Linked DNA regions of Homo sapiens: regions 1, 3 and 4 are each linked to region 2. The links come from fine-mapping of genetic effects on gene expression. A gene starts in region 2. Each other region holds a variant in brackets. All regions are shown on one strand. Distances are between the middles of the regions. Region 1 has its middle 45 kb from the start of AGA. Region 2 holds the start of AGA (aspartylglucosaminidase). Region 3 overlaps AGA-DT (AGA divergent transcript). Region 4 overlaps AGA-DT (AGA divergent transcript).

The links. PIP is the estimated chance that this variant, and not a neighbour inherited with it, causes the effect.
Region 1: its variant is the best candidate, but not a certain one, in a credible set for the expression of AGA in whole blood (INTERVAL, PIP 0.62).
Region 3: its variant is the best candidate, but not a certain one, in a credible set for the expression of AGA in whole blood (TOPMed, PIP 0.51).
Region 4: its variant is the best candidate, but not a certain one, in a credible set for the expression of AGA in whole blood (TOPMed, PIP 0.59).

The regions. Positions count from the first base shown.
Region 1 is chr4:177,394,700-177,399,904 of GRCh38, reverse strand. No RefSeq gene overlaps it. Among named protein-coding and RNA genes, the nearest start is that of AGA, 45 kb to the left of the region's middle. The variant G/A (reference allele first, on the strand shown) is at 3,107.
Region 2 is chr4:177,440,247-177,445,246 of GRCh38, reverse strand. It overlaps AGA (aspartylglucosaminidase), which reads left to right and starts at 2,810. Exons shown (of 9, transcript NM_000027.4): 1 at 2,810-2,998; 2 at 4,821-4,974. The coding sequence starts at 2,872. AGA-DT (AGA divergent transcript) reads right to left here and starts at 237. Exons shown (of 4, transcript NR_183779.1): 1 at 1-237. RefSeq lists enhancers at 2,145-2,224, 2,315-2,858, 3,685-3,764.
Region 3 is chr4:177,498,163-177,503,367 of GRCh38, reverse strand. All of the region lies in intron 1 of AGA-DT (AGA divergent transcript), which reads right to left. Among named protein-coding and RNA genes, the nearest start is that of AGA-DT, 56 kb to the right of the region's middle. The variant GAGTGTA/A (reference allele first, on the strand shown) is at 3,054.
Region 4 is chr4:177,581,233-177,586,437 of GRCh38, reverse strand. The region is part of intron 1 of AGA-DT (AGA divergent transcript); the gene reads right to left. Among named protein-coding and RNA genes, the nearest start is that of AGA-DT, 140 kb to the right of the region's middle. The variant A/G (reference allele first, on the strand shown) is at 2,823.

The DNA of each region.
Region 1 (5,205 bases), 45 kb after region 2:
GGTAACTTTGACTTGCAATCCTGAATATTGGAGTGGCACCAGGCATGGAATATATGGGGTCTGATACTTTGCAGTGAATATTAACTAGCAAAATTGGCCCATAATTATCACAACCATCTTTATACCTACAGAGTTTAAAAATGACACACTATGAAAGCACCTCTGAGAGTTCTGGCAACTCCCATGCAAATGCTGCATTAAATACAATGCAGTGTATCCCCTAGGCATTATTTGAACTTTTTATAAAATCCATGCAGCTACCACTCACACCACTCAAATATGCCATACTCATACAGGCATATTTCTTCTGTTAAGATCATCACCATCCCCTTTGGCCCTTTCAAACTCTCTTGGCACTCTCAATGTTTAGAAGGGGTGTTAATTTGAAGAAAAAAACCTTGAGTTATGTAAGAATTTTCTTCTCTTTTCTTTTCTTTTCTTTTCTTTTGAGACGAGGTCTCGCTCTGTTGCCAGGCTGGAATGCAGTGCGTGATCTCGGCTCACTGCCTCCTGGGTTCAAGCAATTCTTGTGCCTCAGCCTCCTTAGTAGCTGGGATTACAGGCACGCACCACCACACCCAGCCGATTTTTGTATTTTTAGTAGAGATGGGGTTTCGCTATGTTGGCCAGGATGGTCTTGATCTCCTGACATCATGATCCGTCCACCTCAGCCTCCCAAAGTGCTAAGATTACAGATGTGAGCCACCGTGCCTGTCCTATGTAAGAATTGTCTTAGACAAAGAATATATACTACTACATGATTGTCTTAGCAGGGACAATGTTTTTTCTTGTCCCTGATTCAAAACCATTTTGTGTTGCTTTGTGTTAGCTTTAAAATAGCAGATATATAAGTGATAATAAAAATGCTGTATTTCTACTCTCAGAGTACTTCCATCGTAAATAACTTCCTTGTAGTATGAATACTCATTCCTGAAGCTTACTCTTGTGTGTAGGTAGGGTAGATGTTCATCAATGTATTATGAATGAACAATTTCAAGAACAGCAGTCAAACATTTTTATTTATTATGGTTTCTAGCAATTGCTACATTCTCAAAATTTTTATTTCTTTCCCACTTAATGGAAGTTGACATTAAGTCTCAGATGGGTGACACTAAAGCTTTTTATACCCGGTGCAAATGAATCTCACTCTTTTCCTAGGATTTGGTATTGGCGAGGGCAAGAATAAAAGTAGAAAAATACTGTGTTTGTGGCAAGGAGTGAGAAGAAATAGGAAATGGAAGGCCTGAGAATTAGTTACCCCCAAAGAGAAAAACTCATGTAGAACAGGGAGACTGTGTTGTCAAAAAAATGTATATTCTCATTGGTCTCCAGACAGCTGGGGCAGAAACATTTCTCTAAAAATAGTGTGTTGACATAGGAAATTATTAACATCTCTGGTAGATCATTCTATTTACTCAGAAGATGTAATGGACTTTCTTGAACAAACAGCATTTATTCCATGAGAACTATAATAAGACATTCTTCTTGCCCTCTAGGGGCTTATAATCAAGGGGAAGGGTGGGCAGTATAGAGGAAACTAATGTTGGGAATCAATTTTCTGGGTCTGTTACATTTCTTCATGTCTTACGGACAGAGGTGCAGAGGTACAGACCACCTTTGTTTTGGGGTATCTTTCTAAGGATGTTTGTTTAGTGAACAGACTTGGAAGACAGTAAAGGGAGCTGCCTCTGGAGCAAAGGACAGGTTTGTTTGTGGTTTAGAATAATAAATTAATGTCTCCAGGCAAAATTTAGTAAGGTTTACTTCTTATTATAAAGGATTTGGGCTTCGTGAGTTCAGGGTTCCTCTCCACAGGGCAACCCACTGCACATGCAGGCGTTACCTGGCCTTCTTTGTGTCTCCCTTGGGAACTGGAGTTTAGAGAACTGGGACAAATGCTGATATTCCAGCTACTGCTATATCTTTGTGTAATAAAGTCCTTTGTCTCTGACCCAGGAGTTTCATGTCTTCTGCCAGCATTCATGAATCTGATAGGTAAACATGTTAGCTTACTTTTGGATAAAATCTCAGATGCTCCACAATTCTTGACAACCAACATGCTGCCCATTTTTTATTTCAAACACAGTAGATAACTAATGATAAAATAAGGTTGACGATAAGCCATTAATAGAAGTATAAGCAAATTATCATGAAGGTATATCTGAAGACAGATCATTTTGATCGGAGAACATATGGGAAGACCTAGAAAGCAGAATTTGAATGGGGCCTTGAAGGAAGGGTAGGACTTCAACAGTTGGAGTATCAGGTAATGGCATTACTAGTAGTGGGAACAGTTTGAGTAAAGTCTAAGGACATGTTAGGCAAGGAGAGACTGGTTATATTGGTGGGTAGGGTCAGGAGAAAAGAAATGGAGCAACAAGCCTTGAAAAAGGGACAGCATCCAACTCTCTGGGGGGACTGTGTAATGTTTTTGCATTTTTTCTTCCTTGGAATCATGGAAGTTTTTTGTGTGTTTTTTTACAAGAAACTTTTACAATCTAAGTACTTTGTACGGAAGAAGTGGCTTTGGTGCTAGAAAAAAATAGCACTTAAATAATTTCTACCCTTCAAAACTGAGAGTTGTCATCGTCTTAAATTCTGGACAAAGGTAGTTTTGTTTTTTCTTGATTGCCCTAATAAGGAGGAAGAATACACACTAGCACTGTAGATTCACTGCATTGTTCAACACCAACTTGCATGCAAGGTAGGTAGTATGGTGGTATCACTGGGACAATAAGAATCCAGAACATTTTCTCTCTGTCCAATGTAATCTATGACTCTAGAAAATGAAAAATACTTGTCTTGGCAAAGAAGCACAACTTCCCATTCTGAGCAGCTGCTCAGACCTTTGAGACTTATTCAAGGGGGCATCCCAATAACGTTGCACAGCAAGTCTCTAGTCTCTTCCTTGCACAGAAAAACAAATCCAGCTAAATATGCACATAATTTCCAGAAATACAGTCTGAAGAATGTGGCCTTCATTTCTTGAAAGGCCTTAGTAAATGTCAGTGATCTAAAAAGTAGACTCCAATGCCACATCAAGGACCATGCTTGCTAGAAACAGCTCATTTACAATTTGAGGAAAAGAGTCAGAAATGAAATGTAG[G/A]AATATAGCTTTTTAGACATCTTAGCAGTTGATTCTTGATAGGATGGATGTTTAAAAGTTCTAGCATTAATGATATTTACAATAGCACAATATGAAAGCATCAAGGTCACTTCCCAAATGTTCTTTCACTATGTTGCTTTCCAGAAGGGTAAATATGACAGAGTGTCTAGAAGCTGCCTAACAGTGGTTTTATCATAAATTCTGAATGATAAATGACTTTCAGACAGTCCTAAGCATCCCACAATGGGCTCTAATAGTACTGAGAGAAAATTTTACGATGAATACAAATCACCCCTAAAGCCCGTAATACATCATGCTGAGTAATATCACAATAAGAATGGGAAAGAAAATGAAACTTTAAATAGGCATATGCTTTTATGTACTTTGACTTGAATTTGTATTCTTTCCACCCACTCCCTCAATCTAACAATAAATATTACTCTGGAAAATAAGAAAACACCTTAAACATTTCTTGGAAAATTTGATTTGTAAAAAAAAACACAAAATCTGTACTATAAGAGATTAACATTACAATTTTTCTTATTGGTTAAATCGAGAATAATGATAATGCTTCCACATGCTCCCTTTTGAAAAGAGTTTTACATGTATTCTCATTTGAACTTTATAATAACTTAAAATAATAGACATTCCCATTTTATAGACAAAGGAATCAGCACATTTAAATGACACTTTGGCTAGCTCACAGGTTAATGAATGATAAAACCAGGAGTAGGAACTTCCGTCTCTTGAAAATTGAATAACAGTCTTACCAACTACCTAAGGGGTAGGAACTTCGGTCTCTTGAAAATTGAATATTAGTCTTACCAACTACCTAAGTTCAACATAAAATAATTTTGGGACCACTGTTATAGTAAATATTGCTGTGTAAAAAGTGATCCCTTAACTTGGAGGTGTTTTGTTTGATGTTGCTCAGGAGTATTAAATAATTTGTGGCTTTTATTTCTCAACCATCACTATCCCTAACGTCATTTTCCCCTCTGCTTTCATTTGAGCCAAATATAATACTTATTAATATATCTGACCTGAGTTTATGATAAATTTCCTAATAAAACTCAAACACCAAACCCAATCCATTCCTTTGGAGGTAAGATAAACTCTGTGTGATTCCATCTCTTAAAAAATCTGCTTAATTTGCTTTTGTGTTCAAAATAAAACAATTTTGATTAAGAAACTGCCATTCTATGATTAGTGAAGCCCACATAGAATAACAGCAGAAGGAAAGTGGTGATTCCAAAGGGAAGAGAAAACCGAATCACCTCACTTCTCAAGTAAGTGAACTCAGTGCTTTCTGTGCAAATTTTATTTTCTGTGCAAATGACAAGAAAGATAAAGGAGTAAATGTCTGTGAAGTTTATAAAATGGTTATTTTTTTCACTTAATGGCAGTTTGGTACCTTTTTTAAAAGCTGCTTGGGAAGAAAGTAGATCACCTGGTTGGATTGAAAACATTCTAACTAATGGTACTAGGCAGTGAATTATAATATTGTCTTCTCAGTATGCTCTATGGCCAGAATGGTATGCACACACACATTACTCTGTATCAGTTATTTTTTAAATTCAGGTGACCTGCTTATAACTGATAGATGGGAAAAAGTACAATTAAATGTAAGATATTTAATTTGGTCTTATGCAATAGCTTACATTTGTGTTCCATGTTAAAGTTTTTCAAGTGTTTTCCCAGATTTGATTCTTTTGATCCTAACAACCACCTTGGGAGGTAGATAGAATCACTATTTGTAATTCACATTTTGCTGATAACAAATGAGGTTTGTAAAGGCTGAATGGCTTGCCTACCAAGCTCCTAAAAGTAGGCAGAAGGAGAACTAGAATCAAGACCTGCTTTATCCAGTGGCTTCTCTATTTATTTTTTGAGGAGTCTGGCTCTGTCACCCAGGATGGAGTGCAGCGGTGCGATCTTGGCTCACTGCCTCCTGAGTTCAAGGAAGCAGTGAGCCTCCTTGACCTCTGCCTCCTGGGTTCCAGCAATTCTCCCACCTCAGCCTCTGGAGTAGCTGGGATTACAGGCTTTTGGCACCATGCCTGGCTAATTTTTTTGTATTTTTAGTAGAGATGGGGTTT
Region 2 (5,000 bases):
CATGCCGGTGTGCTCCTATGCTGGTGCGTTCCTTTCGACATCCAGCAGCCCCTGTATTCTCTGCCTATATGCTCCTCTCAATGTCCAGCTGCTTGTGCGTCTGCCTGCCAGGGTCTCGGGGGTTTTTAAAGGCACAGGATGAGGGCATGGCAGGCCAGGGTGGTCTTGGGAAATGCAACATCCGGGCAGGAAAACAAAAATGCCTGTCTTCACCTAGGTAGGCCCAGGCCCAGGGATGAAGCCCTAGCTGGGGACCACGCCCTCCTCTACCCAGCACTTCCCGCCCCCCTTCCTTATCATTTAAAGGGACCACGCCCTTCCCTTCCCAGCATTCCCTTCCCAGCACTTTCCTGCGGCATCACTACCTGTTAACAGGTGTTCCTTTTCGTTTAGATTTACCTCAAAACAACGGCGAAGGATCTAATTATATTTAGGCCCAAAAGAGCACCTAAGTGAGAGTAACAGAAGGTTACTTCTAGAACTAAAATGAAAATTATTCTTCAAGTGTTAGTCAAAGGAAAACTACTCCAGAAGGAACCAAATATCCAGACGAATTTAACTTAAGAAACAGCTACAATTTAGGCAAACTGGACAGTGGATCCAGTAGGTATTTTAGTAGCCACTAAGAAGACACTGAATCGGGTAGATTCTATAGGGATTGCATATTAGTTATTTAAATACAAATATCCGGCTGGGCACGGTGGCTCACACCTGTAATCCCAGCATTTTGGGAGGTCGGGGGGGTGGGGGCGGTGGGTGGATCACCTGTGTCAGGAGTTCAAGACCAACCTGGCCAAAATGGCAAAACCTGTCTCTACTTAAAATACAAAAATTAGCCGGGCATGGTAGTAGGCAGTAGCAATCCCAGCTACTCAGGAGGCTGGGGCAAGAGAATCGCTTGAATGCAGGAGGTGGAGGTTGCAGTGAGCTGAGATTACACCAGTGAACTCCAGCCTGGGCGATAGAGCAAGACTCCATCTCAAAAAATAAATACATACATACATACATACATACAAATATCCATGGAAAAGTTGATATATTGAGACCTTCTATCAGCCATTCCCACTATAGTGTAATTTAGCTGTTTCTCTGACAGGAATTTTTATTTAAGAAGAAAGAATTTGGAGAAATAGACATAGTAGGAGGTAACAGATCAGGCTCTTTCCACCAGAAGAAACACAAATACCTTAAAAAACAGGAAGAGGCTAGAGAGATCAGTGGGGTACTAAGACCAATTTTCCATGTATTGTATTTTACAATTTTTGCTAAAGGCATGTCCTAATTCCTTAAGGCTGCATAAAAATACTCAGCCCAGGAGCTAAGGAAAATTTACTCAGAGGACAATGTATGTTTTTCTGGCTTTCTTACCCTGTTTCACCCAAGTTTCCAGTTTCACCTGCCATTGGGTTATGATTACTCCAGCACAGATGACTTGTTCCTCTTCCAAACCCCATGAAAGGAACTTAGAAAATTTGTCTTTATTATATCTTTTAATTAACACTTCCCCAACGGGATAATGATACTTCTGGGCTATCTTATGTTCTTTAAATTATGTATTTAATTTCCTAGCAATCAATAAGAGCCTTGAAGGTTTTGTAAGTCTCACAACTCCTACCTAGTTTATATTTTTACATTTATTTATTTATTTATTTTTGAGACAGAATCTCACTCTGTTGTCCAGGCTGGAGTGAAGTGGTGCGATCTCGGCTCACCACAATCTCCACCTCCCGGCTTCAAGCAATTCTGCCTCAGCCTCCCAAGTAGTTGGGACTACAGGCATGCACCACCACGCCCGGCTAATTTTTGTATTTTTAGTAGAGACGGGTTTCACTATGTTGGCCAGGCTGGTCTCGAACTCCTGACCTCGTGATCCACCCACCTCAGCATCCCAAAGTGTTGGGATTACAGGCGTGAGCCATCGTGCCCAGCCTAGTTCATATTTTTAAAGTTTGTATAGATTTATAGATGCTTTTAAAAATTATGTGATTATGTGTCTTGCCTTGGCAACCTGGGCAGGCATTCCAGACACCCAAAGGGATTATTAGTTCATGTTCGCACGTCTGCCCAGCAACAAAACTGAGCAGCCTCCACCAAGCACGTAAAATCCCCATTCCTCCTCTTATTCATTTATTTAGCACTTAATAGTGCCAGGCAGGAAGGTAAAAATACATTTAAAAAGGAATGGAGGTAGCCGTCTTGCCCTGGAGGTGCAGGAAGCTGCACTTCAGTGTGCTAGGTAGAGGGTACATAGGCCGTTTCTGTTTTTCTTCCAGCTCAGGGATTTATAATGAGAGGAAGTGCTACAAAAAGCTGTGGTGCGAAAATGACGGACGCTATGAATGGAAAAAAAATCTAAAATCAATCCGGTCCTAAGCAAACACGCTTCACCTACACTCATAACTATTGCAGACCTCCGAGGCCTGGGATCCCCAAGAATATACTGAGTTTGACAAACTTTTCAACTTCAACTTTAAATTAAAAAGACAGTAAAAGAACCAAATCCATAGTACACAGCAATCGGCTAAAGTTCCTGGGGCCCTGCAACCCAGAGTTGAATAATTTTGTATTAAATTCCCAATATCAAGCTAAATCTATTTTAACCACAGGAAAAGCAGCAACTTGTCTGGCTATTTTAAAAATCTGAACAGCACTTAGGAAGAAGCACCTTAGCGCAGGGAACAGCTCAGTGCCCCGTGACACAACTCTCCCGCGGGCCCAGGGACGCCTCGTCTCGCGAGAGTTGAGGGACGCCTGAGCGAACCCCCGAGAGAGCGGGCGTGGGCGCCAGGCGGGCGGGGCACTGGGGATTAATTGTTCGGCGATCGCTGGCTGCCGGGACTTTTCTCGCGCTGGTCTCTTCGGTGGTCAGGGATGGCGCGGAAGTCGAACTTGCCTGTGCTTCTCGTGCCGTTTCTGCTCTGCCAGGCCCTAGTGCGCTGCTCCAGCCCTCTGCCCCTGGTCGTCAACACTTGGCCCTTTAAGAATGCAACCGAAGCAGGTGCGGGTTGGCGGCCTGGGCGGGCGGCTGCGCCGCGAGAGCTTGCGGGTGGGGATGACTAGCCCGCCCCGCTGCAGTCACCCGGCAGGGCGGACGGAAGAGCGCCGGGCTGGGCCGGGCCTCGCGGTCCCGCCCTCTAGGTCTTCCCGAGTCTCCAGCGCCGCTCAGTCTCTTGCAAGTGGCCTTTACTGCATCCTCCCCACCTACCGCTGTTGCATTTTAGGTCCTCCCTTCATGCAGCCCCCAGCGCAATGTATTTTCCACCCTGCTGCTGACCATAGTTATGGCCTTTGTGCTTTAATCAAGTAGCAGCTACGCTTTTCTGCCTGACAGTCTTTTCACGGGCTGTGTACGTCTCCACCTCTCGTTTCTAATCCTTCACTTCTTTGCAATTTTGTAGACGACTAATAGTGTCCCAGCCATAGCCTACTCTTTTCCCATTTACTTTTTTTGCCACGTGTTGTCATACTTTACCTGCCACTTAGAATTCAAGGTTCCAACCTTTGCTGTACATTCACACTATCTGGGGAGCTTCTCAAAAATCATCCTGCCGGGGCCCACCTCCTGTGACTGTGATCTAACTGCTGGAATCAGGGCCACTGTTTTTCTTTAAAAAGCTCCCTAGGTGATTTCGATTTGCAGACAGGGTTGAGAACCACTAAGCTAAGGTATCACCTCTTCCAGGAAGCGTTCCCTGACTTAACTGCCCTCGTGTCCAGAATGAGTTAGGTTCCTGCCTTCTACACCTTGTTAATAGCCTTTACGTACCATTATCTTGGCATTTTCGCATTGTACTATGCTTGTTTCTTTCATTTGCTTAATGACCAGAAGAGTCATTTTCAGACCCCTCCTCCTCCATCTGAGGTTGCTAACGTATTAACTTTCTAGGGCAGAATTGGCTCCAGAATTTGGTGGCAGTGCATACGATTCAGAGAAAATGAAGAAGCAGGCTGTGAGAAAGATATTCCCAGCCATAATGAGACGAAAAGAAATTGCATCAGCCTGGGCGGGGGACAGTTCTGTGTTTAAGTTGCCTGTATTGAAAGAGGGAACTTGCGTAAATACACTTTCAAGCCTGTAGGTGCTGTAGTGTTTACCAACCAGAGCACCCACTCTTCAAGGAATTCTGTTGTTACCAGAAAAGAAATTGTCCATCAAAGACCCTTCCCCCCACACCCCCAAATGTATGGGATCCTGGCTCTGCTACTTACCAGCTGTGTGACCTTAAACTAACTGCCTGACCTGTGGCTCTGTTTACTTTTCTTTAAAATGAGGGTCGTGATTGTACAGTACCTACCACAGAAGCTGTTATGAAGACTCAATGAACTAATCCATATGAAGTCCACGTTGTAATTGTTTGCTGTTCAGTATTATTAAGACTTCCTGGGATAGGTGTTACCTCAATACACATATCAATTATGCATATTTTAATCTAATGATGCAGAAGAAATGTGTGAAGAAGGCTGCGGTTTAGTGGATTTTTTATTTAACTGCCTTTTAGTGGTTTCGATTGTACCTTTTAAAATAAAGGAGGGGATACTGATTTCGTTTCTCGCACACAGAAGAGATAGATATTAGTAAGTGAAAAAAAAAAAAACCTTCAGCTTGCACCAATAGCCAGTTTTTTGAGTTCTTCTGATAACTAGTTAAATAATTTTGACTCTTCACTGACTCCTTTGTAACACTTGATAAACTAATGTGTTAAAAAATCAGCTTAACTCAGTAAATGTGAAAAAGTTGTTAAATTGGAGTTGGTTTGTTGCATTTGGCATTGAAAAAAAAATATATATATAAACAAGCATTATTGGGATTTGATTAACAGCGTGGAGGGCATTAGCATCTGGAGGCTCTGCCCTGGATGCAGTGGAGAGCGGCTGTGCCATGTGTGAGAGAGAGCAGTGTGACGGCTCTGTAGGCTTTGGAGGAAGTCCTGATGAACTTGGAGAAACCACACTAGATGCCATGATCATGGATGGGTAAGAACACCGTTCAGGTCCTATTT
Region 3 (5,205 bases), 58 kb before region 2:
GAACTCACCAACCATCTGCTGCCTTAAGAAGACTCACCTAACACATAAGGACTCACATAAACTTAAAGTAAAGGAGTGGAGAAATACATTTTATGCAAATGAACACCAAAAGAGAGCAGGGTTAGCTATTCTTATATCAGACAAAACAAACTTTAAAGCAACATCGGTTAAAAGACAGAAAGAGGGACATTATATAATGGTAAAAGGTCTTGTCCAACAGGAAAATATCACAATCCTAAACATATATGCACCTAATACTGGAGCTCCCAAATTTATAAAACAATTACTAATAGACGTAAGAAATGAGATAGAGAGCAACACAATAATATTGGGGGACTTCAATACTCCAGTGACAGCACTAGACAGGTCATCAAGACAGAAAGTCAACAAAGAAACCATGGATTTAAACCTTGGAACAAATGGACTTAATAGATATATACAGAACATTTTATCCAACAACCACAGAATATGCATTCTATTCAACAGCACATGGAACTCTCTCCAAGACAGACCATATAATGAGCCTCAATAAATTAAAGAAAATTGAAATTATATCAAGCACTCTCTCATACCACAGTGGAATAAAACTGGAAATCAACTCTAAAAGGAACCTTGAAAACCATGCAAATACATGGAAATTAAATAACTTGCTCATGAATGAGCATTGGGTAAAAAATGAAATCAAGATGGAAAGTTAAAAATTCTTTGAACTGAATGACAATAATGACACACAACCTATCAAAACCTCTGGGATACAGCAAAGGCAGTTCTAAGATGCCAACAGGAGGTTCATAGCCCTAAACGCCTACTTCAAAAAGTCTGAAAGAGCACAAACAGACAATCTAAGGTCATAGCTCAAGGAACTAGAGAAACAAGAACAAACCAAACCCAAACCCAGCAGAAGAAAGGAAATAACCAAGATCAGAGCAGAACCAAATGAAATTGAAACAAAAAATACAAAAGATAAATGAAACAAAAAGCTAGTTCTTTGCAAAGATAAATAAAATTGAAAGACCATTAGCAAGATTAACCAAAAAAGAAGAGAGAAAATCCAAATAACCTCACTAAGAAACAAAACAGGAGATATTACAACTGACACCACTGAAATACAATAGATCATTCAAGGCTACTATGAACACCTTTACACACATAAACTAGAAAACCTAGAAGAGATTGATAAATTCCTGGAAAAATACAACCCTTCGAGCTTAAATCAGGAAAAATTAGATACAGAACAGAACAATAACAAGCAGCAAGATTGAAATGGTAATTTAAAAATTACCAACAACAACAAAGAAACTCCAGAACAAGATGGATTCACAGCAGAATTCAACCAGACATTCAAAGAAGAATTGGTACCAATCCTTTTGACACTATTCCACAAAATAGAGAAACAAGGAATCCTCCCTAACTCATTCCATGAAGCCAGCATCAGCCTAATATCGAAATCAGGAAAGGACACAAACAAAAAAGAAAACTATAGACCAATATCCTTGATGAACACAAATGCTAAAATTTTTAAGAAAATACTAGTTACCCGAATCCAACAGCATATCAAAAAGATAATCCACCATGATGATTAAGTTGGTTTCATACCAGGGAGCAGGGATGGTTTAACATGCTCAAGTCAGTGAATGTGATACACCACATAAACAGAATTAAAGACAAAAATCACATGATAATCTCAATTGATGCAGAAAAAGCATTTGAAAAATCCAGCATCCCTTTATGATTAAAACTCTCAGCAAAATCGGCATACTAGGCACATACCTTAATGTAATAAAAGCCATCTATAACAAACCCACAGCCAACGTAATACTAAATGGGGAAAAGTTGAGAACATTCCCTCTGAGAACTGGGACAAGACAAGGATGCCCACTCTCACCACTCCTCTTCAACATAGTACTGGAAGTCCTAGCCAGAGCAATCAGACAAGAGAAAGAAATAAAGGGCATCCAAATCAGTAAAGAGAAAATCAGACTGTCACTGTTTGATGATGATGTGATTGCTTACCTTGAAAACCCTAAGGACTCCTCCAGAAAGCTCCTAGAACTGATAAAAGAATTCAGCAAAGTTTCCAGGTCCAAGATTAATGTACACAAATCGGTAGTTCTTCTATACACCAACAGCGACCAAGCAGTGAATCAAATCAAGAACTCAACCCCTTTCGCAATAGCTGCAAAATAAATAAATAAATAAAATACTTAGGAATACACCTAACCAAGGAGTTGAAAGACCTCTACAAGGAAAACTACAAAACACTACTGAAAGAAATAATAGATGACACAAACAAATGGAAACACATCCCATGCTTATGGATGGGTAGAATCAATATTGTGAAAATGATCATACTGCCATAAGGAATCTACAAATTCAATGCAAACCCCATCAAAATACCACCATCATTCCTCACAGAATTAGAAAAAACAATTCTAAAATTCATAGGGAACCAAAAAAGAGCCTGCATAGCCAAAGCAAGATTAAGCAAAAGAACAAATCTGGAGGCATCACACTACCTGATTTTAAACTATACTATAAGGCCACAGTCACCAAAACAGCACGGTACTGGCATAAAAATAGGCACATAGACCAATGTAACAGAATAGAGAACACAGAAATAAACCCAAATACTTATGTGTCCGGAATTGGTGGGTTCTTGGTCTCGCTGACTTCAAGAATGAAGCCATGGACCATCGCGGTGAGTGTTACAGTTCTTAAAGATGATGTGTTGTTCCTTCAGATGTTCAGATGTGTCCAGAGTTTCTTCCTTCTGGTGGGTCCGTGGTCGCACTGACTTCAGGAGTGAAGCTGCAGACCTTCACGGTGAGTGTTACAGCTCTTAAAGGCGGCACGTCTGGATTGTTCATTCCTTCCAGTGGGTTCATGGTCTCGCTGGCCTCAGGACTGAAGCTGCAGACTTTCACAGTGAGTGTTACAGTTCATAAAGGTGGCATGTCCGGAGTGGTTTGCTCCACCTGTCCGGAGTTGTTCGTCCCTCCCAGTGGGTTCATGGTCTCGCTGGCTTCAGGAGTGAAGCTGCAGACCTTTGTTGT[GAGTGTA/A]ACAGCTCATAAAGGTGACGCAGACCCAAACAGTGAGCAGCAACAAAATTTATTGCGAAGAGTGAAACAACAAACGTTCCACGGGCGTGGAAGGTGACCCGAGCAGGTTGCCGCTGCTGGCTCAGGTGGCCTGCTTTTATTCCCATATCTGGCCCCACCCACATCCTGCTGATTGGTCCATTTTACAGAGAGCTGATTGGTGTGTTTACAAACCTTTAGCTAGACACCAAGTGCTGATTGGTGCATTTACAATCCTTTAGCTAGACACAAAAGTTCTCCAAGTCCCCTACCTGATTAGCTAGACACAGAGCACTGATTGGTGCATTTACAAACCTTTAGCTAGACATAGAGTGCTTATTGGTGCATTTACAAACCTTTAGTTAGAAAAGTTCTCCAGGTCCCCACCCGACCCAGAAGCCCAGCCAGCTTCACCTCTCAATGGCATTCGCGGCAGGACTTTGTGGCACCTAGCCTGGGCACTCTCCAACAGCCCAGAGGGAGCTTGTCCCCCATCAAGCCCAGCAGGCGGCCAGCCTGCCATGCCCAGTGCAGGCCCCTGGGAGCCCGCGCCCACCCAGAACCCATGCTGGCCCGTGAGCACTGCGCGCAGCCCTGGCTCCTGCCCACGCCTCTCCCTCCACACCTCCCTGCAAGCAGAGAGAGCCAGCTCTGGCCTCCGCTGGCCCCAGAAAGGGGCCCCCACAGCCCAGCAGCAAGCTGAAGGGCTCCTGAAGCGTGGCCAGAGCAGATGCTGAGACCGAGGAGGCACCGAGAGTGAGCAAGGGCTGCTAGCACGTTGTCACCTGTCACAGCCAACTGATCTTCAAGAAAGCAAACAAAAACATAAAGTAGGGAAAGGACACCCTTTCTAACAAATGGTGCTGGGGTATTTGGCTAGCCACATGTAGGAGAATGAAATTGGATCCTCATCTCTCACCTTATACAAAAATCAACTCAAGATGGAGTAAAGACTTAAACCTAAGACTTGAAACTATAAAAATTCTAGAAGATAACATTGGAAAATCCCTTCTAGACATTGGCATGGGCAAGGATTTCATGACCAAGAACCCAAAAGCAAATGCAATATAAACAAAAGATAAATAGCTGGGACCTAACTAAACTAAAGAGCTTTTGCATGGCAAAAGGAACAGTCAGCAGAATAAACAGACAACCCACAGAGTGGGAGAAAATCTTCACAATCTACACATCTGAGAAAGGACTAATATCCAGAATCTGCAATTAACTCAAACAAATCAGTAAGAAAAAAACCAATCACATCAAAAAGAGGGCTAAGTACATGAATAGACAATTCTCAAACGAAGATATACAAATGACTAATAAACATATGAGAAAATGCTCAACATCACTAATGATTAGGGAAATGTAAATCAAAACCACAGTGCAATACCACCTTACTCCTGCAAGAATGGCCATAATCAAAAAACAGTAGATGTTAGCGTGGATGCAGGGAACAGGGAACACTTCTACACTGCTGGTGGGAATGGAAAGTAGTGCAGCCACTATGGAAAATGGTGTGGAGATTCTTAAAGAACTATTAATAGAACTACCCTTTGATCCAGCAATCCCACTACTGGGTATCTACCCAGAGGAAAAGAAGTCATTATTTGAAAAAGATACTTGCATACGCATGTTTATAGCAGCACAATTCACAATTGCAAAACCATGGAACCAGCCCAAATGCCCATTAATCAATGAGTGAATAAAGAAACTGGGGCATATATATATATATATATATATCTCCCAATAAATTATGGAAAAATAAAATAAAATAAATTTTAAAAATTCTACATAATAATTACTATTATTAGCAGTCGTAATTAAAATTCCACTGGCGTATGCCCTGTTTATATCTGCTTAACACACAACCCTACCTTCCCTTCAAGTCTCTTTCCTATCTGGTAGTCTCAGAGGACATCTGGTAGCTTCTGAAAGGAACCCTAACATCTTCTGGTTCTGAGTCCCCTTGTTTATGTCCCAAAGGCTACCTGGGAGCTTCGCCAGAGCCACAGAACTTCCACATAGCAGGGCCTAGGAGCAGCAGGCTTGCTGGGGAAGGGACTAGAGGATTTTTTTAAGTTACAGTTTAGAAGCAAGTGTACTGCTTTTATGTTGTTTATATGTCACA
Region 4 (5,205 bases), 140 kb before region 2:
TTGTTGTTGTTCATTTGTTCTGAGGTAATAGCAACCGCATGAACAGAAAGATGACAGGCCTACAACACACTCCATACAGCTGGCGCAGAATTTGGTGATTTCCATTAATCAAGGCAACAGATGCTTATCTTAATAATTTAGTAGTTTCTATAAGTCTGTCTATATTCTTCATTTCTATATGTATAAATTTATAAAGCAAAAAACACTACCAACATCAATTGATGTTAATATTTCTGTGTATTTCTGTTCATTGTTTTTTCAAAGTAGCTACATAAATTTTATTAAATTGGAGTCATCGAATATGTAGTTTGATACCCGGTTTTCAACTTAATATTGCAAACATTTTCACATACCATTAAATATTTTAAGTTATCTTTAAAAATTGTTTATTAGCAACTGCAAAATATGCCATCATCAAAATGTACCAAAGTATATTTAATCGTGACCTTTGTTTTGGCGTTTAGTGATTTATAGTTTTTTAAGAACTATGAAAAATTAATATACACACATTTATAATATCTGTGATTATCTTTTAGCATAGATTTTGAGAACTAGGATTATGGGGGAAAGAATACATTTTTAGAGATTTTCGTATGCATTTTCAAACTGCTTTCCAGGAAGAATACATTCTTACCAATAGTATATGAGAGGTTTCATTGTCTAAGTATCTCTTATCATACCTATATCTTTATTAGCTGGATAACTAACTGTTTTATCTTGGTCCAACTTTGCATTTTGAATATCAAAATAAACATGAAGGTTTTTGTTCACATTATATGTAGTAGTAATTCTTATTAAGCCACTATGACAGCATGAGCTCATGGTTAACATTAAAACTTAGAAAGAAAAAATCTGATACTTAAAACTGTGTTTTTTAAAATGAGAGAACTTCAAAAGGATAGCTTTTCTCGGTAACGGATTTTTTTAATCACTCCTTATCAAATGACTGGCGATGTGCTCTATTACTATTAATAAAGAAATATATAGCAGAAGTAAAACTGAAGTTATGGAATATCAAATTCACCTTTACTCCTTGACTTTCTCATTCACACTTTTTTCATTATACTACAAATTGAGATTACATAATATTGAGCTTCCTTTAGAATTCAGAATATTTCTGTACATCTTGTCATGCTTCAGCATAACCTAAAATGGGACAAGTTCTCTTAGCAGATTTTTTTTCAAGTCCAAAAGAAGAACTCTGAATAAAGTCTCAAACTCCGGGGTTAATCTCCTTGACCAACCAGTAACCAACAGTATTTCCAACTAAGATTACAACTATGCAGTAGATTCAGAAATGGCATCAACAATGTTTAATGTCAAAATGCAGTCAAAGCCAACATTTGCTATAACTGAGAAAACCATTATATAGGTGCCTTTGTTTGCTGTAGATATGAATGACGTTAATTTACTTTGAAGAGATTCTTAGGGAGGTTGCAGAACTCTGGAGTTCTAGAGAATACAAATATCTGAATTAATGTTTGAAGATTCTATAAAACATACATGTATATAAAATTGAATATGCATATATGTGAAGATTCTATAAAACAAATATACATATACGTGAAGATTCCACAAAACATGTATACCACCATTTGAATCTTATACTCCTGAGGATAATTAAATTTAGCTTCTGCAAGAGACAGACTTCAAAGTTTCCATGGCTTAAAACAACATAGATGTATTTCTGGTCCACCTGAAATCTGATACAAATCCTGTTTCATGTTGCTACTCTGCCATCAGGAACATAGGCCTCCCAAGTCACAGGAGAAGACAGTGATGGTGGAGACACACCTGCTGGCTTCTACTTCTTCTGGAATTGATGTCATTTCTGCTCATAGTTCATTAATCAGAACAAGATGGAAGGCTAGAGAATGCAGAGAAATAGAAGGAAACATTGGTTTCTGCCACGTATCTCAACTAAAGCCTATGCAATTTAAAAATCTGTAATATGTAGAAGAATTAAAAGAGGTTAGATCTCTGCCACAAAATGCTTACTAGATGAGTCCTCAATCTTATATTCGAGATTTTGTGAAACATAAAAAGTTTAAGACATAATTCCTACCCACGAAAATCCTAAAATGTATAATATAGTTAAGGAGTCAATGCAAAATGTATCAAGATTTAAGAATGATTTTTTTTGCAGCACAGAAACAGAAACATTTACTATTAAAGAAGGAGATCCATGAATAATTACAGTGGGCTTCATAAAAAAGTTGTGTGAGTTAGTCTCTCAAGGACAGAATGGTGAGATTGACATAGGAGTGGGGAAAAGAGAGTACATTAGAGGCAAGATGATGGGCTCCAGGGAAAGCAAAGGCGAGAAGGGCTATGACAGCTTCAGAGAAACTTAATAGGCCTAATTAGACAGAGAGTACATTTTGAGAATTCGTGGTAAATAAATACATGGAGCAGAGAATCTTGTAAACCACATAGCAGAACTTAGAACTGACACAGTAGAAAACTGGGAAACATTTGAAGTTCTTGAGCAAAAGCCTGAGATTTCTTGTTTAAGAATTATACTGCACTTATCTCCACGAGGACATGAAGTGGTATACACAGTACAATATGATGCAAAATTAGGCATCAGGGAATAAAACCAAGCATTGTCTGCTTGACGAATTTAATGGACTTAATGAATTTAATTAAACAGGAGGAAGAGATGGTGGGCTACACACTACTTGAAACAGCTGGATGCTGATTACTTGGCTATGCCGAATTTCACTCTTCATTTTCTTACTTAAAACAAAAAGGAAAATAGATTAGGTTAAATTATTTTCACGGTTGGGCCAAAGAAAAAATAATCCACAAAACCCTCACTC[A/G]CATAGGTCACGATAGGAGCAGTGTTTGAGGAAGATTTGTCTGGCATCAGTCTGAAAGGTGAGTTGGAGCAACGGGCAGGAGAGGTGGAGGGAGCAAAGACATAGTGAGGGCCCCAGCACCACAGTGGCCAACAAACACCCAAAACACTACAGTAGTAGGGTGGTGGTGGTGATGAACCCACTGTGGTAGGAACTGTCTTTTGTGAGTGTCTCATTGAAGTCCCTAAATATTCTCTGACAAATAAGTGTTACTAAAGGAAGTCAAAGGTGTTCTAGAGTCTTCACAAAGAAAGACATCAGTGCAACCAAAACCTGAAGCCATTTACTAAGCATGCCAAATGTAGAGTCCCTTTACATTCTGTCAGTGAGCATAACATGAATGTTGCTAAAGGTCATGTGCTAACAATGATTATTTAGACAAGATAAGGAGATCATGTACATGAATAACTTACCATGACTAATGGTTGCTTGGGGAACACCCAAACTTCATTCAGAAAGTCTCACAATCTTAATGCCCTAAGAAGTATTTAGAGATCATTCACAGAGCCTTCTACTCACACAATGTCACATCTAAATCATTATAATGACTTCTATTTTAGAGTCTTTTGGAACAGAAGATGACATACTCTTTAATTGATAGGTGGCTATAGACATTTTAAAACATATCTATTTGCAGATTGCTATTTTTATAGAGAAAGATAAGTAAAACTATACTCCCAATAAGACAGAACAAAGAAACCAATACAAAAAGTTTAAAAATATAATAACAACTTTCTTTATTAACATTTTAGAACAATTAAGTGAAGCAAATGAAGGTAAAATAGTCCATTTTTTAACACTCCCTTCAAGCTTACTATGCTCCTTTTTCAAATGCCTACAACATTGTTATGTGTGTTCTTGTGTGGCCACCAAAAAAGTTGTTTTACAAAAGCATGCTATCAACAAATACACAAGATTTTATTAATTGGGAATAATAACAATAGGCTTTATTTCATTTAATGCCATCTCCCAGGTAATATATGGAAAGTCAAATTTCAAAATCTCTTCAACTAAGAAAATATGAACAACTAATTAATTACAATGAAATATCATAGCAGCAAATTATCACTCTCTCAGCTATTTTCACTACTTTTCATTATGTCTATAAATCAATCAATGTTGTTCATTCACATTTATTGATTTTTTCATCATAATATAGATTATACCGTTTTCTTCCTTGGATTAACATGTAACAGTCCTTAGAGACACTGGATGCTAAACTATGGATCTCAGAAAGTATTCAATATATTATTATGTATTTAATAATCATTTGGGACTACTTTGAAAGAGATGGTATACTAACCAGGTCATTCTAACATCTATAGGATATGCTACATCAATGCAGAATGGTTTTATAACCTTGCCAAGGTCATGAAATACCACTCTACAATGAAAATAAAGTAAGTCCAGTGAAATGTGAAAATTATGACTGAAAGCCATGTTTTCTTTCAATCAAATAAGATCTCACATTCTTTTGAGAACCTTCAAACAATGGACTGACTGCGATTCTGTCAGATTAAGTTCAAAATAGCATGTTGCAAGGTAAGAGCTTTTTTTTTCCTCTCTCTCTGCTTTTTCGTTGTTTGCTTGTTTAGTGTGTTCATCCATTTTGTTCATTTCTTTAAGATTTTTTAAATTGTTTTTAAAAATATTTTTAAAACAGTGAAAAATATACTAACAAAGACCACATAGATAAATGTATATACGGCCAGTTTTTAAAACATTTTTAAAAGAGGCAGTGCAGTCAGTTCAGCAACATGTCGCCTGACATCCTTAAGTACACATTGTCAAATTGACCCATACGGTTCCAAATAACACATCATTGACAATCAGCTTCATAAGCATTTAGACATTTTTGAACCATCCATTATTCTTTTGATAACTTATGATGACTTTTTTGTAAGCATCACAATCTATAATTTTCTAAATATATACTCCCATTTTCCCTACCTAAAGATTTTGAACATAAAAGGTCTACTAAAATATTTTAAATAAGCAGATATTTCATTCAAAAAGAAACACAAGAAGAAAAGCTCAAAACAAATGATAAGACTTTCAGTTCTTTATTTATTTTATTTTATTTTTGAGACGGAGTCTCGCTGTTGTTGGTCTGAGCTATAGGGCAATGGCGCGATCTTGGCTCACTGCAACCTCCGCCTCCCAGGTTCCAGCAATTCTCCCGCCTCAGCCTCCCGAGTAGCTGGGATTACAGGCACCTGCCACCACGCCCGGCTAATTTTTGTATTTTTAGTAGCGATGGAGTTTCACCATGTTGGCCAGGCTGGTCTCGAACTCCTGACCTCAGGTGATCCACCAGCCTCGGCCTCCCAAAGTGCTGGGATTA